2 separate regions of the Homo sapiens genome follow, and region 1 is reported to be linked to region 2. Evidence: microRNA targets listed by miRTarBase, many of them from high-throughput screens and not tested one by one. Region 2 holds a microRNA gene; the other region holds the end of a gene's coding sequence.
Evidence for each region. Region 2 holds the annotated microRNA hsa-miR-3941 (UUACACACAACUGAGGAUCAUA, at 3,457-3,478, opposite strand). A microRNA usually pairs through its seed, bases 2 to 8, with sites in the 3' UTR of a target mRNA and lowers its output. Matches are read on the target gene's strand: a 7mer-m8 pairs with bases 2 to 8, a 7mer-A1 pairs with bases 2 to 7 and ends in A, and an 8mer does both.

Region 1 (5,073 bases), not on the chromosome of region 2:
CCCCTAAGAAAGTTTTTAGGAAATTGAAGTGGCCTTTAACTCTCTCAAGTCAGAGTGTAAGGAAGGTTGGCTTTTTAGTGCCACATAAGTCATTAATGGAAAAAGGATCTCATGGAAATCTAAGAAAAGGAATTCACGGATCTGTCTTATCCTCATTAGACAGAACTTTCCACATTAGGGCACCTGACATGCTGCTTCCAGCCTTTGAATTACCTGCCCTTAAGCTGTATGCCTCTGTAGCGGTGGAGATGATGTGCTATAACAGAAGGCTGCCTAAGATTTGCACTGTAAGCAGAAACTATTCACAGGAAGGTTTCCGTGTGAAGGTCTGTTGGGGGGAACAAGGTGCAATATACATTTCTTCCTGTGTGGCCTATAATGTTTTTGTTGTACATAATGGTGACTGAAAAATTATGATTAACACTTATTTATTTCAGTGGAAGATATAATCCAGCTAAGCAGAAGACAGTGAGTGCCAAGAGAGGACCAGTAAAAAAGATTACAAGACCAAACCATCTTCCAGAACTCCATCCATGATTCCAGAACTGGATGGATTTCTATTTCTTCCTTTTTTTTTCCATTTATAATATTCAAGTTATAAAGTTAATGGTCAGCACATTTCTTCAGGGAATAAAATAGATAAGAACTGCCACATTTTTCTTTAGTTCCTTTTCCAGACGTGTGTTCCTTTGTCTGCATAAAAGTAATTTTCTCCAGTGACCCTAAACTATGTAATAGAAGTGCTTGAGAGTTTTAAAATATCCTAGGGAATCTGAAGGCTGGCATCATTACACTTGCTTTCAATAATATACCCATGATCTGCTCTGATAGTAACGTTGCTATTCTATTTGGTTTCTAGTTGACTGTTAGCAAAAAGTGTGTATTCATAAAACCTTTTTGCCATTTTGGGCTGGATCTTGCTCAGTTTTTTAAATTGCAGGTTTAAACAAAGCCGAAAATCAAGTCCATTTTAAGTTTTGACTTGAAATATTATGGTATCGTAGAACAACCTTCAATCTTAAATAAACTTGTTTGTAGTCTCCACTCTGCCATGAACTTAGGAGATCTTGGGCAAGTCCCTTCACCTCATGTTTATTTCCCACACCTGTAAAATGATTGAAGCAAAACTATACACTTTCTGAGGTTTTTACAATTCTAGAAAACCAATATTTATTCAATCATAAGGTCCTACCACTTACTTAACACTGGTGATTTAAGTCATTTTGTGATGTGTGGTAATTCATAGTGATGGACTAATTCTTTAGACCAAACTGCAATTGTTCACAATACTCAAGTCCAGATGTGGAGATAGAATGAGGATAAGAAAAGAGTTCTTTTGAGGCATTTATAAAATGTATTGAATCCTCTCATTCATGGTTAGACTGTTTTTGTCTTTTAGATAGTTTTTGTAACTGTCACCTAGGTCCGGAACATATAACTTATTTGTCCACTTTAATAAGTGAAATCATTGGACTTCAGATTTATAGAAATCACCTAGAGGTAAGTATAGTTTCCAGCTAATGGTGTTCTCACCCTATATCTGGCACTAAACCTAAATTCTATTATGTATCACCAGTAATGAATACCAAGTGCATTTCTGTAACTTCTTCTATAAAAGTTTATTTTCTTTCCTTAAGGAAGAATATATAAATTTCATGTAGCCAAAAATATTTTAAGTAACTTTAAAATGTAATGTGGAAAAATATAAAGTAACTTTCTATAAATCATTCTACATTGGAATTATTTGTAAATATTTTCCCCTATTCTTTAGCTAACTATTAATATTAGGTGCCTTGACCCATATCATTAGACAAACATTAGATTTTTATGTCTTATACCATCTTTCTCAGCATTAGTAGAAAATTAATAATTTAAATAATAATTATAGGCCAGGTGTGGTGGCTCACACCTGTAATCCTAGTACTTTGGGAGGCCAAGGCAGGCAGATCACTTGAGTCCAGGAGTTTGAGACCAGCCTGGCCAACATGGCAAAACTTGTCTCTACTAAAAATACAAAAAATACAGTTAGCCTGGAGTGGTTGTGCATGCCTATAGTCCCAGCTACTCAGGAGGCTGGGGCATGAGAATCACTTGAACCCGGGAGGCAGAGGTTGCAGTGAACTGAGATCATGCCACTGCACTCCAGCTTGGGAGACAGAGCAAGACTCTGTCTCAAAAAAAAAAAAAAACATTATTATAATAATTATAATTATCAATGAAAAATAAACACATTTTTTCCTTACAGAGCTAAGCTATTGTGGGGACTATTGAGGAACATTTAAAGTTATCTCAATCACTGGGATAAAATATCAGTTGAACATCTTATCACAGGGACTCTATTACATTTAAGTGTTGGTTCTGCAGGAGCTACTTTGGGATACTTTTCAGATACCATAAAATGTCTGTATTAAACAGAATGATGGAATGTTGAGAGAGTATAAAGAACTGAAATGAGGGACTCCAAGATCTGTATTCTAATACCAGTTTTGCCACTTATAAGCTTCTGACTTTGGTAAATAACTTCTCATATCCTCAGTTTTATCCTTTATAATTACTGCCTTGAGATTGCTGTGCAGATCAAGGGTACTTACCACATATTTATTTCTTTACTTCTTTATAGTCTCTTTCCCACTAGAAGGGATGTGAATTAGCTTTTACTAATATAGAGGTATCAAAAAATACCTACAAGATAAAAGATGAAAATAAAAATTAAAATTTAGCAAGAATTTCCAACCAAGAAAAGTTTTAGTTTTAAGCTTTCTACCAGTCAGTGCAAAGAAGCAATGACTGCTTTCCTTTGTAGAAGGAATATACAAGTAGAGAAAAAGTTTTATCCAGTTCTAAGCTCTGAAAATAATTTTGTCATAAAGAAAATGCAATTACTGGCTGGACATGGTGGCTCACACCCCCTGTCACTTTGGGAGGGTGAGGCGGGTGAATTGCTTGAGCCCAGGAGTTCCAGACCAGCCTGAGCAACATGGCAAAACTCCATCTCTACAAAAAATACAAAAATTAACCAGTTGTGGTGACACGTGCCTGTAGCCTAGTACTCAGAAGGCTGAGGTGGGAGGATCACTTGAGCCAGGCCAGGAGGTTGAGGCTGCAATGAGCCACTGCACTCCAGCGTGGGCAACAGAGTAAGACCCTGTCTCAAAGAAAAAGAAAAAAAAATCCAATTATTTGTTGCAATAACCACAGCAAAAATGACAGTTTAGGGTCTTTGATACTCAAATATGTATTGACTTCAGTAGTTGTTTTCTTTCATTGGAAAGTTCAGAATTCATAAAGCAAAACCATCAGTAAAACAATATATATTAAAAAATTTAAGATATCTAAATGTATTACAAAATATCAAGACATACCATTTTTAAAAACAAATATTGCCATAATAAAAAAGACAGATCATGAGTATTGACATGAGTGTGAAAAACCTGGAACCCTCATATGTTGCTGGTGGGGATATAAAGTGATACAGCCACTTTGGAAAACTGTCAGTTCCTCAAAAGGTTAAACATAGAGTTACTATATGACACAGCAAGTCTCTTCGGTATATGCCCAAGAAAAATGGAAACCCATGTCCACGTAAAAACATGTACAGGAAGGTTTGTGGCACCATTATTCAAATAGTCAAGAAGTCGAAACAACTCAAATGTTCATCAGCTGATGATTGGGTAAATAAAATGTAGTATATTCCAACAATGGATATTATTTGGCAGTAGAAAGGAATGAAATGCTGATATATGCTGCAACATGGGTAAACCTTGGAAACATTATCCTAAGTGAAATAATGGAATAACAAAAGACCATATATTGCATAATTCCATTTATATGAAATGTCCCAAATAGGCAAATCCATAGAGACAGAAAATAGATCAATAGTTGCTGAGGGTTGGGGGAAGGTCGGTGATGGAGAATGACTGCTAATAGGTACAGGATTCTTTTTTGGAGGGATGAAAATGTTCTAAAATTGATTGCAGTGACAGTTGCACAACTCTGTGAAACTAATGAAAACTATTGTATACTCTAAGTGGGTTAATTGTATGTTTTGTGATTTATACCTCAGTAAAGTTGTTGTAAAAATGTTAAATATACATTAACATTTTAATATTAGTAGATAAATGTTAATGAAATATTATTTGATCTTTCTCAATAATATGATCCTAAAAATACAAAAGTGCATCATCACTAGTGCTATCACTGGGTATAGAGCTTTTATTTATTTATTTATTTTTGTGTATATGTGTGTGTGTGTGTAAAAATACAATAAACTGGTTGGAATATCTGCTTTATTAGCATATTTGTACCTTCGCTGTCCTTATTCATGTTCTATTCACATCTCTTCAAACAGCCTCCTCTTAAAAGAAGAATTGGACCCTTTAAAGGTCAGCTGCTTGGAGACATTGGGTTTCAGTGCTGCAGGTGTGGCTGGACCAGAGAATAGGACATGCCTCGGACAAAAAGCACTCTGGCCCGCCTGCTTACATGGGTCCTCAACCTTGGCTGTGTGTCAGACTCACCTGAAGAGCTAAAAGTAAAATACTCAGACATGTGCACCACCCCCAGGATTGTGATCTCACATGTATTTCTTTAAGCCTCCCCCAGGAAATTGTACAGAAAAGATTGGGACCCACTCTGCTGGTTTAGTGTGGCTTCATCTCTCAAACTGAATGAAACTTCTTCCAACTCTCCTCGAGCTGACTTCACCTTGGTCTTTTTATTTTTACTTTTTTACAGTGAGAGATAAGGATTTTATTTTTTCTTCGTTGTTATTTATTTCAATTTTTATTTTAGATTCAGAGGTACCTGTGCAGGTTTGCTATCGTGGTATATTGTATAATGCTGAGATTTGGGGCACAAATAATCCCATCACCCAGGGACTGAGCATAGTAGCCGAAAGTTATTTGTCAATGTTTGCTCTCCTTTCTTCCTCCACCCTCTAGTGGTCCCCAGTGTCTATTGTTGCTGTCTTTATGTCCATGAGTACCCAGTGTTTGGCTATCACTTGTAAGCGAGAACATGCAGTATTTGGTTTCCTGCTTCTGTGTTAATTTGCATAGGAAAATGGCCTCCAGC
Region 2 (5,073 bases):
TCAAAATATGAAGCAGGAAGTGGGTGGTGAAACAGAAGAAACAAGACAAGCTGAGCCATGTGTTAACAATTATGACATCTAGGTGATGGGTATATGCAGGTTCCATGTATTATTTCTATCTACTAAAAGGGTATGTTTACACTTTTCCATGATGAAAAGGTTTTATAAAAGAGCCCATTTACACTTTAAACATTTTTATCATATATTATTCTTGAGCATATATAAAAAAGAAAAATATAGACAAGATAAACTGGTTATAGTTTTTAAGATTTCACATTCAGATTCCAGATCTTCTGAATCACTTTTTGACTTGGAGCCACCAATGTCCATATTTTTCACTCCAAGCCATTCTTTGTGCCAAAAAGAGTGTTGGTGATGCAGTATTTAAGAATGTTTCATGGTGTCCCTGAGATTTCCTCCCAAGCTGCCAGCACCCTTTTCTGCACATGCTGATGCCGGTGTCTTCTGGATTTTACCCAAAGGTACTGTGCATATGGCAAGCAGTCAACTACAGCACAGCTGCAGCCTGGCTGCCCCTCGTCCTTAGCAACTCTAAGACATACTGCTAAGATTTCAGAAATGTTAAAACTGGGGGAGGGGGAGCTGAAACAAGAACTATTACAGAAATACTAAGTTTTGAAAACCTGTATGCTGGGCATTATTCTGTGAAATTTGAGAGGAAGAACAAAGAACTACCATAGGAGATAAACTATACTCCGTAAAATTAGGAAAACTTAAGTATAGTTATAATTACTGACCTTTAAAGGTTTTCAGCTTTATCTGCAATTTCTAAATACTAAAAATATTCCTAATTATTAAAACTACTGTTGATGATGGGGGCACACGTCAATTTCCCCACCAAAACTGAACTCCTGAAGGCCAGAGAACTTTGCTAATTATTCTCTTTTATTTTCAGTTCCCAGAACAGTGCACCAGGTTCATGGAGAGCTCAATGAATGTCTGCTGCATGAATGACTCTTCCCGGGAGTATTGGCTTTAAATAAAATCTATGAGACAACCTGCTAACCAAGCACAAGGATAGCCTCCTGAGACAACAAGGCAGGTACTTTCTGAACCAAGTAACTACTACTTCCAGTTGAGGCTCTTAAGCTTTGAGAAAGCCCCATACTAAAATGGCATTTCTTGCTATGCTATGCCATTTTTCATTCATTCAAAGACACTTATTGTCTATCAAGTGCCAGGCCCTGTGATCATAAAAGACTACAAGAGTCTTTACCCTTAAGAAGCTCATTTAATTTAGTTGCAAAGACAAGAATGCACGTGATTGCAAAACTCTGGGAAGAGCATTATGATACAAGTATGCATAGGGTACCACAGGGCATATAAAGAGAAGACACTTAACCCAGAGTCTAAAAGCTTCCCAGAAGAGCTGACTCCTGAGGTGAATCTTAAAATATCCCCTTCCTATACACTAGTGCTCTGCTGGCCAATACAGTGGCCATTGTGTGTAATGATGTAAATATAAATTAATTAAAATGAAATTAAGTCAGTTCCTCAGTCACACTAGCCACATTTCCAGCACTCAACAGCTACATGTAGCTAGTGCCCTTGGACAATACAGATACGGCACATTTCCATTTGTGCAGAAAGTTCTAATGGACAATGCTGTTCTGGTGACTTCATTCAAACAAAGTATAAGTTCCCTTCTCAAAGATCCCATACAAAAAGAAGACGTAGGATAGACATTTATACTACAGAATTGCATTCAATGTCTCCAATAAGCTATTTCAGGACTCAGATCACCCTACAATATTTTAAATAAGGATGCAACTCAAACAAGGCGAAGAGGGAATTTCAATTTCTGATTCTACCTTCAGGGAAGATAAAAACATCTTATGTGAAGTGATTTATGAGTCAATGTGAAATAGGTAAAGAAAATCTCAAGAGAAAGAAATACAGAGGGTTAAATATTGACTTTTACAGACAGAATTCTTTACACCACTTTCCTCACTGTAATGTTACTCTTTTTCCCCTTGTACAATACTTAATACCTATTTTAGTAGATAGGTACTTTGAAACTATGTAAATATCTCATTCCTCATCATATATACAGATATACATTCATTCACCAAAAAGTATTGTTTCTCTGAAAAGACTTGGCTTCTATTATACTTAATATAGTTCCTGATTTTATAAATCACTGTGTATGTGACCATTCTCCCATCTCTGCCACCACCCCTTCCCCATGTGGATGCCCTTCTCTCCCTACTCCACGTGGGGCTAACCCCCCAAGAGGACAGCCCCTTTAGAGGAAATTTATAGACTAGAGGATTCTGAGATCTTCAGATCTTTCAAGGTGGAATGCTGCTTTGAAGATAGGATCTTTTTACTTAAAAATGTATTTAAGAAAAATATCATTAACCAAAAGCATCACAACCAAATAAACTATATTTACCTCTAAAAACTAGACTTATTCTGAAACTACAGAACAGTACAAGAAATTATATATAATCACTACATTGCAACACTTTTCAAACATTCTTATAGCAACATTTATGACGTAACAACATACCAGTTCAGATTTGAAGTAGCCTATTGTGTTTTCATCCAATTGAAAATATCTTCTCTTCCAGTTTTTCATCTACCAGAGATGAACACAGACATAAGACTTGTGTTTCTAAGAATGTCAAATGTTAGTCACCACTTAATTACCCTGATATGAACCCACAATCAGACATGCCAAGCAGTGAAAAATCTCATTACTTCCCTTAGAGATGCGATAAATTAAACCTCATCCCTCTCTAGCTACCCAGGCTTTGAATTCCTAATTCAATTTCTGGTGCCTGGCTTTCATCTTTTATTGTATGATTTTATGTGTTTTTTTTTTTTTTTTTTGAGACAGAGTCTTGCTCTGTCACCCAGGCTGGAGTGCAATGGCGCGATCTCGGCTCACTGCCTCTGCCTTCTGGGTTCAAGCAATTCTCCTGCATCAGCCTCTCGAGTAGCTGGGATTACAGGCTCCCATCACTATGCCCAGCTAATTTTTGTATTTTTAGTAGAGACAGGGTTTCACCATGTTAGTCAGGCTGGTCTCAAACTCCTGACCTCAGGTGATCCGCCCACCTTGGCCTCCCAAAATGCTGGGATTACAGGCGTGAGCCACCATGCCTGGCCTATTTCATATTTTTAATGTTGAAACTTTTTTTTTTTTTAAAAGCACTTCCCCTTCCTCCTACTCCTCGCCCCCGCCAACCCCATGTAAAGAGCAAACACAGGAAATGTTATTAAACCACATCAAGTTTCTCCATCTGTAAAAACATATGAATTCTTCCACAAGTACTTTATACATAGTAGTAAAGCACTAAATATTTAATAAAGTAAACCTATTTTGTACAAATATTTTTTGTCAATAAAATAACAGTTTTTGCAGAAGCACTTAAATATCTCTGACTGGTATTTTGGACTTAAGAGTAAAACAAAAAGGAACCATCAGGCTATGATCCTCAGTTGTGTGTAAAATTAGGGCTTTCAATCTACACACAACTGAGCATCACAGCCTGATGAGAATTCTGACTCTACCTGCAGACATTGTACAGTAAGAAACCCCTGCCCTCACCATCATTTTCCTCAGCCTAAAGCAGGTCAAACAGGTGAAAGGACATTCCCCTGGCTGCCCTAAAAAAATTAAGAGTTGCCAAAAAGTGATGAGAAGTCAAACAGAACCACCAAAATAATTTTAAGTATTTCTTTACTCACAGACTTAAAAAACATTTTCAAACTTTAAAGTTAATTTTCTCATGAAATTCTAAAGATTTAGTTCACATAGAAAGAATGGCTTAGATACTAAGGTATGTTGCAACCTTAGAAATATTGGTAAATTTACTTGCTCTTGCAAAAAATTCATCATGGAACTGATTATATGGGAATACCTGGGCTAACCCATAACAGCTTTTACTAAGTACCAGGTGCTGTGCAAAGGGAAACACACCTTTCTTATTTACATCTCTTAAAAAACAAAAACAAAACAAAACAAAACCCTAGATGGTAGGTTTTATATGATATTCCTTAAGACAGAAACTGAGGGCCTGAGAGGTTAAGTAAGTAGCCCAAGGTCAGAGAGCTTACCACGGAGGTCAGGCCAATGCCTAAACAAGGAAGAGACCTCCTAGGCACCACTCCTTCTCCTGCCGCTGGCCTGCCATCTCCCCACAACAGCTCTCTTTCCCTGACCCACTCCTGAGTATGAGTAAAGATGAATAGAAACACTTTCTAAAACATTAAACTGTTAGGAAAGCTCATTTAAACTGAAAGTCAGTGGTAATGGGCATTAACTTTCCTGGCCCCCTGCAAACCAAGCAAATAACAGCATTGAATTATAAACAGAGAATATCCCCTATTTTATCTCCTGACTCTCCTCAGCATGCCGGTCTCTCACTTTGGGTCTTTCATAAAATAAAGCAAACAATTTCCATGTTAATTTGAGTTTGCTAGAACGTAATCCTTTTTCATTATTTCATGTATTTTGTTAAGCTACTCACCACTGCTCCTTGTTTTACACAATATCCAGCTTTGATAACCGCACTATCTTGAGGTGGTTTAGGAGTAAAGTAAGGAAGATGGCTTTGTGACCGTTTCAGATTATTTCTGTCAATACTTTCACCACATTCATTTACTTCTTCTTTCTAAAATGAAGCAAAATAAATAAATTATTTTCTTGCTTGTTTAGCATACTTTTATTTCATATTATCCCAGTAGAAAATCTTAAAATCCACCTTAGATTAGTCAGAAACAGATTTTTGAAGAGTTTTCTAATTAATCTGAGATACTTACTCTTAATTTTCCTGTCACTGATTAAAGCACAAATTTCCATTCCTCTTGTTTTGCACAAGTCCTGCCACCAGTGCTCTTTTTTGGGGAAGGAGTTAACTTTTTATTTTGAAATAATTATAAGGATTCACCAGAAGCTGCCCAAAAAAAGTACAACAGGTCCTATGTACCCTTTCACTAGTTTCCCCTCAAAGGGAAACGGCGTAACATTATCAAAAAACAAGAAATGGACATTGGCACAACCCACAAACTTTATTCGGATTCCACCAGTTTTACATACATTCA

Region 1: miRTarBase lists CCDC169 as a target of hsa-miR-3941. Seed matches in the 3' UTR shown: 7mer-m8 at 877-883.

What each region holds. Positions count from the first base shown.
Region 1 is chr13:36,226,657-36,231,729 of GRCh38, reverse strand. It overlaps CCDC169 (coiled-coil domain containing 169), which reads left to right. Exons shown (of 8, transcript NM_001144981.3): 8 at 438-955. The coding sequence ends at 537. It overlaps CCDC169-SOHLH2 (CCDC169-SOHLH2 readthrough), which reads left to right. Exons shown (of 16, transcript NM_001198910.2): 6 at 4,349-4,382. Among named protein-coding and RNA genes, the nearest start is that of SOHLH2, 15 kb to the right of the region's middle.
Region 2 is chr10:122,415,429-122,420,501 of GRCh38, reverse strand. It overlaps MIR3941 (microRNA 3941), which reads right to left and starts at 3,537; the gene lies at 3,435-3,537. It overlaps PLEKHA1 (pleckstrin homology domain containing A1), which reads right to left. Exons shown (of 12, transcript NM_001001974.4): 7 at 4,500-4,643; 8 at 2,534-2,602.